Homo sapiens: one gene and its partner. The protein of the gene in region 1 interacts with the protein of each later gene in a pairwise test. Each region holds a gene or a part of one and is shown in the gene's direction. Other genes may lie near its edges. The genes, in order: ZNF468 and AATF.

Evidence for each region.
Region 2: the proteins of ZNF468 (region 1) and AATF interact in a two-hybrid assay, tested with the Homo sapiens proteins (one large-scale study listed by BioGRID and IntAct).

The regions. Positions count from the first base shown.
Region 1 is NC_000019.10:52,840,349-52,844,170, reverse strand, and holds part of ZNF468 (zinc finger protein 468), read left to right. Parts: intron 1-2,019; coding exon 2,020-3,446; 3' UTR 3,447-3,822. UniProt on the Homo sapiens protein: May be involved in transcriptional regulation.
Region 2 is NC_000017.11:37,053,222-37,057,043, forward strand, and holds the end of AATF (protein AATF), read left to right. Parts: intron 1-3,379; coding exon 3,380-3,443; 3' UTR 3,444-3,650; downstream 3,651-3,822. UniProt on the Homo sapiens protein: Part of the small subunit (SSU) processome, first precursor of the small eukaryotic ribosomal subunit.

The DNA.
Region 1 (3,822 bases):
ATCTACCAAAGCTTATTTGAGAAGTAGTTATTTATCTTATTTTATTTCTTTGAGACAAAGTCTCATCCTGTCACTGAGGCTGGAGTGCAGTGGCATGATCTCGTCTCACTGCAACCTCCGCCTCCTGGGTTCAAATGTTTCCTGCCTCAGATTCCCAAGTAGCTGGGATTACAGGCGTCTTCCTTCATGCCTGGCTGATTTTTTTGTAGTTTTAGTAGAGATGGTGTGTCGCCATGTTGTCCAGGCTGGTCTTCAACTCCTGACTTCATGATTCACCCACCTCAGCCTACCAAAATGCTGGGATTACAGGCATGTGCCACTGCACCCGGCCGCTAGTCAATTCTTGTTCCTGGTAAAGCTGTGTATTTTCTTGACCTCATATATCAGAAGGTAGTGATCTTAACATCTATTTCAGTTCTTACACTGTGTGCTGGTGATAAGTACAAGTTTTGGCTTTTTTCTTAAGAGGGAATTGTTTAGAATTCTTCAGTCTGTATAAATGTACTTATTATTTTCTTGCTTGTTTTATCATGGGTTGCAATATTTGATTAATTGATTTTTATGAATTTATATATGAGTGTTCGGTATGTGGTATGCAATATAACGGACACACTCCCCCCATTAATGTCAGAAAGTGCCACAGGGTGCAGTGGCTCACACCTGTAATCCCAGGACTTTTGGAGGCCAAGACATGTGGATCACCTGAGGTCAGGAGTTCGAGACCAGCCTGGCCAACATGGTGAAACCTGATTTCTACTAAAAATACAAAAATTAGCTGGGCATGGTGGCACATGCCTGTAATCCCAGGTGCTCAGGACCTAAGGCAAGAGACTAGCATGAACCCAGGAGGTGGAGGTTGCAGTGAGCCAAGATCGTGCCATCGCATTCCAGCCTGGGTGACAGAGTGAGACTCTATCTCAAAAAAACAAAAATACAAAAAATTTTTTAAAAAGTCACAACATAACTGTTCCACATGGATATAGGTAATTTTGTAACAGTTATTCAGAAAAATATGGTATTAACATTTTCTTTTTTTTTTTTTTTTTTTTTGAGACAGAGTCTCACTCTGTTGTCCAGGGTGGAGCAAAGTGACACAATCTCAACTCACCACAATCTTTGCCTCCCGAGTTCAAGCGATTATCATACCTCAGCCTCCCAAGGAGCTGGGATTACAGGTGCCTGTGACCATACCAGCTACTTTTTGTGTCTTTAGTAGCGACGGGGTTTCACCACATTGGCCAGGCTGGTTGAACTCCTGACCTGAGGTGATCCACCTTCCTCGGCCTCCGGAGTTACTGGGATTAGAGTCACAAGCCACCATGCCATGTCTTTTTTTTTTTTTTTTTTTTTTTTTTTGAGATGGAGTCTCATTTTGCACCAAGGCTGGAGTGGAGTGATGCAATCTTAGCTAACTGCAACCTTTGCCTTTTAGCTTAATGCAATACTTGTGACGCAGCCTCTGGAGTAGCTGGGAGTACAGGTGCTGGCCACCACACCTGGCTAATTTTTGTAATCTTCTGTTATCTTGTCAGTGCTGTGATTGTTTGACAATAGAGAATTTCCACTAATTTTGGTTATTCTTACAAGAGCTTGTTGTGGATTATTTACCAATATAGTATATTGTGTGGTTCTTTAGCATTTATTTGTATACCCTAAATACGCTGTAAATATGGAGAATATATATTTTTCTCTGATGTGACAGTGATATGTATTTTGCACAGTGTGACACACTTTAGGGTCACAGTGGAAAAACACTCCTTTCTTTAGACTCACACGTGTTTGTGCCCTGTCAGTGTTTTGTCATGATATTGGAAATAGGCTTCCATAGAAATGATTTGAAGCACATGTAATCGCCCTTTATTTATTAAAGAATCTTACTCCTTTTGTGTTCCTAAACTTTGAAGCTCACGTTTGGGAAGTTGAAAATAAGTATTGTTTTTTTTCTGTGATATTTACACATTTCAGTATTATATACCGTCTGTACTTAATTGGAAACCTATTGGTGTTTAAATTTTGTAGATATCTCTTCCAAATGCATGTTGAAGACGTTGTCGTCAACAGGGCAAGGCAATACAGAAGTGATCCACACAGGGACATTGCACAGACAAGCAAGTCATCACATTGGAGAATTTTGTTTCCATGAAATTGAGAAAGACATTCATGGCTTCGAGTTTCAGTGGAAAGAAGATGAAACAAATGGCCATGCAGCACCCATGACAGAAATCAAAGAGTTGGCTGGTAGTACAGGCCAACATGATCAAAGGCATGCTGGAAACAAGCGTATTAAAGATCAGCTTGGATCAAGCTTTCATTTGCATCTGCCTGAACCGCACATATTTCAGTCTGAAGGGAAAATTGGTAATCAAGTTGAGAAGTCTATCAACAATGCTTCCTCAGTTTCAACATCCCAAAGAATTTGTTGTAGGCCCAAAACCCATATTTCTAATAAGTATGGAAATAATTCCCTCCATTCTTCATTACTCACACAAAAATGGGAAGTACACATGAGAGAAAAATCTTTTGAATGTATACAGAGCTTCAAATCCTTTAATTGCAGCTCACTCTTAAAAAAACATCAGATAATTCACTTAGAAGAGAAACAATGTAAATGTGATGTATGTGGCAAGGTCTTTAATCAGAAGCGATACCTTGCCTGCCATCGTAGATGTCACACTGGTGAGAAACCTTACAAGTGTAATGAGTGTGGCAAGACCTTTGGTCATAATTCATCCCTCTTCATTCACAAAGCGCTTCATACTGGAGAGAAACCTTATGAATGTGAAGAATGTGACAAAGTTTTCAGTCGCAAATCACACCTTGAAAGACATAAGAGGATTCATACTGGAGAGAAACCATACAAATGTAAGGTTTGTGATGAGGCTTTCGCATATAATTCATATCTGGCAAAACATACTATACTTCACACTGGAGAGAAACCTTACACATGTAATGAATGTGGCAAAGTTTTTAATCGACTATCAACCCTTGCACGCCATCATAGACTTCATACTGGAGAGAAACCTTACAAATGTGAAGAGTGTGACAAAGTTTTCAGTCGCAAATCACACCTTGAAAGACATAGGAGGATTCATAGTGGAGAGAAACCTTACAAATGTGAAGAATGTTGCAAAGTTTTCAGTCGCAAATCAAACCTGGAAAGACACAGGAGGATTCATACTGGAGAGAAACCATACAAATGTAAGGTTTGTGACAAGGCTTTCCAGAGGGATTCACACCTGGCACAACATCAGAGAGTTCATACTGGAGAGAAACCTTACAAGTGTAATGAGTGTGGCAAGACCTTCGGTCAGACATCATCGCTTATAATCCATCGTAGGCTTCATACTGGAGAGAAACCTTACAAGTGTAATGAGTGTGGCAAGACCTTCAGTCAGATGTCATCCCTTGTATACCATCATAGGCTTCATAGTGGAGAGAAGCCTTAATAGTGTAATGAGTGTGGCAAGACCTTCCATCACAATTCAACCCTGTAAGTCATAAGGCAATTCATACTGGAGAGAAACCTTACAAGCATAATGAATGTGGCAAGGTTTTTAATCAAAAAGCAACCTTTGCACATCACCATAGACTTCATACTGGAGAGAAACCTTACAAATGGGAGGAATGTGACAAAAGTTTTCAGTTGTAAATCAAACCTTAAAACACATAAGAAAATTCACATTGAAGAGAAACCATACAGAGGTAAGGTTTGTGACAAGGTTTTTGCATATAATGCATATCTGGCAAAACATACTAGAATTCACACTGGAGAGAAACTCATTATAAGTGTAATGAGTGTGGCAAGACCGTTGGTCAAAATTC
Region 2 (3,822 bases), on another chromosome or scaffold:
AAGGGATGCATTTCTAATAACATTTTACACATGTATGAATACTAAATTTTCACTAAAATTAGGATATATTATATCATATTATTATATATTGATTATATCCTAATAATAATCCAGAGGAACATTTTTAAACTACTTAGAGCCTTATAATGTCAAACAATTAAAATATTTTCATTTCAATTTTTTGAATTTTAAAAATTTCAAAAGTGCTTTTATTTACAGACTAATGTGGCCAAGAAGTATGATAAGGGTGATTGATAAAAGACATTCAAGCATGAAACCATTATATTAGGACAAAACTCTGTAGGGAAAAGTCAGGTGGAAATAAAATTTAAAAAGAAAAAGGTGCTATAAAATGTCCAAGTTAAAAAGTTTATGTGTGGCCCACGCCTGTAATCCCAGCACTTTGGGAGGCCAAGACGGGCAGATCATGAGGTCAAGAGATGGAGACCATCCTGGCCAACATGGTAAAACCCCGTCTCTACTAAAAATAAAAAATTAGCCGGGCGTGGTGGTGCGCACCTGCAGTCCCAATTACTTGGAAGGCTGAGGCAGGAGAATCGATTGAACCCGGGAGGCGGAGGTTGCAGTGAGCCGAGATTGCGCCACTGCACTCCAGCCTGGCGACAGAGCGAGACTCCATCTCAAAAAAAAATAGTTTATGTGTTACTTGAATGAACGATGAGTATCAAATCATTATGGCATGTAGGTTCCATTGCAGGCATTACAAAAGTTAATTTTCACAACATCCTGGTCATTATATATTTTGTAACTATTTAAACTTACTGTGAAAAACGTTATAAAAATGTGCAACCCTACCTTCTCCAACCTAGTAAAGAGGGAGGAAGGGCTGTGCCTCCCTGTACCACCCAGCTGCTCAGGGCAGGAGCCAAAGCCAGGACCTGGAAAGAGGAAGGGCTGAGGCCAAGCTGAACCGCTGGAATCTACAGTGGGGGTGGCTGGTGGGGGGCGTGTGGGGCGGGGATCTTCATCCCCATGCTGCTCCTGGGCCCCAGGGAGGGTCTGCTTTGTCTGTCTCAGAGAAGGGAGTGGAAGAGTCAGCCAGGAGGTTGTTGCTGTGTGCTTCATGAGAAACGGTGAGATCTGACCTAGTGGAAGCCTGGAGGAGCTGTGAAGTTTGAGATGCTTTGAAGGTAAAAACGGTCACCAGCTGGTGATAGTGGGTGAGGAAGATGTAAAAGTTGAAATTGCTTGGGGACTTTTAGATTGAAATAATCCCCTATTGATATTCTCTCTCTCTGAAAATATTTTAAGAACCCAGACCACTCAGCTTCCCAGGTTGCTTTGCCATGAACAGCTGCATATGTTTGTCAGCTTTGCCCACCTGAGTGTGAAATGATGTTCTATGAAAACATGGGTTTCAGCATTTCACTCTCTGCTCCTGACACGTGAACCCTGCTGCGGACAGTAACTGCTGCCTTCGGCCCAGGCGTTGCACTGATATTGCGCGCAGAGTGGAAGCATTTGCTCAGTGGTAATGATGGGGTCTGGTGCAGGCAAGCGCGGCGAGGCTGGAAAGGGTATGATGTGAAGGGCTAGCCTCGCGCCTCTGCATTTCTTTCTCATCAGACGTTGTTGTCCTAAAGTCACACTGTCCTTTTGTTATGGCAACTCTCCCTTTCACGCCATTTAATTTTTTGTGTGGAAACAGCTAGAGAGACTTGTCTTTACTGGCAAATAGGCAGGCCATGGTGTGATGAAGTGGAGCCTGCCCTGGGCACCGAAGTATCCGTGTGACGGAGCTGCTGATTTGGAAGCCGTGGGTTTGCATTTGGTCTGGGGCTGCCGTCCACCTTGGCAGGCTTCGTCTGGGCTGATTGAGGCTAGTCACATGGATGTGTGTAACAGAAGAGCAGAAGAGATGGGTGGAGCCAAGGGGGAAGCTGTGTCCTTTGTCTGTGGCCTAGGGGTCTGCTGGGTAGTTCAGGGTGAAGGCACCAGCACATTCTTGGGATAAAATTCCTGTAATAAAATTGGAGGCCTGTTGTTTTCTGGCCTGCACTTTCACTGCCTGTCCCTCCCGCGGTCCCCAACATGATAAGGCTAGCTTACATTTGTGGCTTCTGTAGTTCTTCCTTAAGATGTTTTTCTTTTGACTTTTTTAAAGCTTTGATACTCTATTCCTTTTGTTGGATTTCCTAATTGTAGTACCTTTATTCCTATCCATAACTATAGTAGGGTGACTTCAAAAAAAGACCAGTAGTTTTTTGTGTTGAAGCCTTGCTGTTTGAAAGGTGGGGTTTTTTGGTTTTGCTTTTAAAGTCTGATGTGCCGATGCTGACCCTCAGATGATGAGAGCACTTTTAAAACAAGACGGCAGGCTGGAATTTGAGTTCCATCTTGAGAATATCCGAGCAGGTGTAGATTTCTTCTGGGGCTCCTGGCCCATGACCTCAGCCCTGTGTGCGCCTGCCCTGTCTCTGTGAGGGCTACCGGCTGGGCCTTCTGCAGGGCGTGGACATGGATGGCTGCCTCTGCGGCCACGTGCTACACGCCCACCTCCCTGATGACAGGGACGTCCTCACACGGGTCTTGCCTGCTTGGAACCTCATGGGTCCCTCATGTCTCTGCAGGGAGGATCTGCTCTGTATCCACAGGGGAAAGTGTTCTGGAGCTTCTGTCTCAACGATAGGAAAGATCCCTGCCCCACCCACACCCCTTTTAGGTTTTCCAGGCCTTGACACATGGCTTTGGCCGATGTTTGTGTGTATGTTGCATTTAAAAGAGTTTGAAAGTGGTCATTTACTTTTCTTTTTAGGGGCCCAAGACCCTGGCATGTTATTGTTTTAATGTCAAAACCCAACTTTAGAAATAAATTAGCCAATCATATTATTTATTAGACTGAGAATAGAGACAGGGCAGCTGGGGAGTGTGGAAGAAGCTTGGTTCTCTTCCTGAACAACTGCACAGATGATAGTAATTGGAATCGTGTTGCTGGCTCATTTTCATTGTTTTTCAAGTACTGCCAAGTCCAAGAAAATGTATGAAAACTAAATTATATCCCCCTACATCCCATGTCTGATTGAATCCTCCTCATCGGATGGCGGTCTCCTACATCCTATTAAAATATTCAATCTTGTTTTCTTACTTGAAGAGCCTGTCTGCAAAGGGCAAACTTACAGAACACTCATTCCCTGGAGACGGGTGTCCAGCCGCACTGGACCATTTACATATTTTACTGTTTGATTGGGTTTCTTCCTTCTGTTGTATTTGTGAGTAAGAGCTGTGGGGTGCATTTTTAATTACATGGCTGTGTTTTCAACAGAAGAAACAGAATGGGGTATTTTCCAGCTTCTGCGTTCCTTTTTAACCTTGAATAGTGAACCAGTGTGTTAACCAGTTTGCTGTGTTTGTCTTTTAGGACAGAACTGTACCGCTCTCTTTTTGGCCAGCTCCACCCTCCCGACGAAGGCCACGGGGATTGACATCGCCCACCTCCGACACCCAGTGGGCGCCTTGGCTGGTGCGGCTGCTGGTCCAGATGGAGGAAACCAGTGACTTTATGGGGCTGAGCTAGTAGGGAAGCCCCTGGAAAGATGCTGCGTTCCGAACCTGTGCCTAATACACGCAAGGGCGCTGTCCCGCCCAACCCCGCCTTTAAACGCCACAAATAAAGAGCATTGTTACCGCCACCACCGCTTGTGATTTCTTAAGAGGCTGAGAGTCAGTCTGGTTTGGTTCTAGTGGATGACACATTTACTGAGCTTTTTTTTTTCTAGTCCAGTGGCCTCCTCATACAATGTCAGACTTGACGTTTCCTTGACCCACTCACCCTGGCGGACATGTAGATTGTTTGCATAGCGT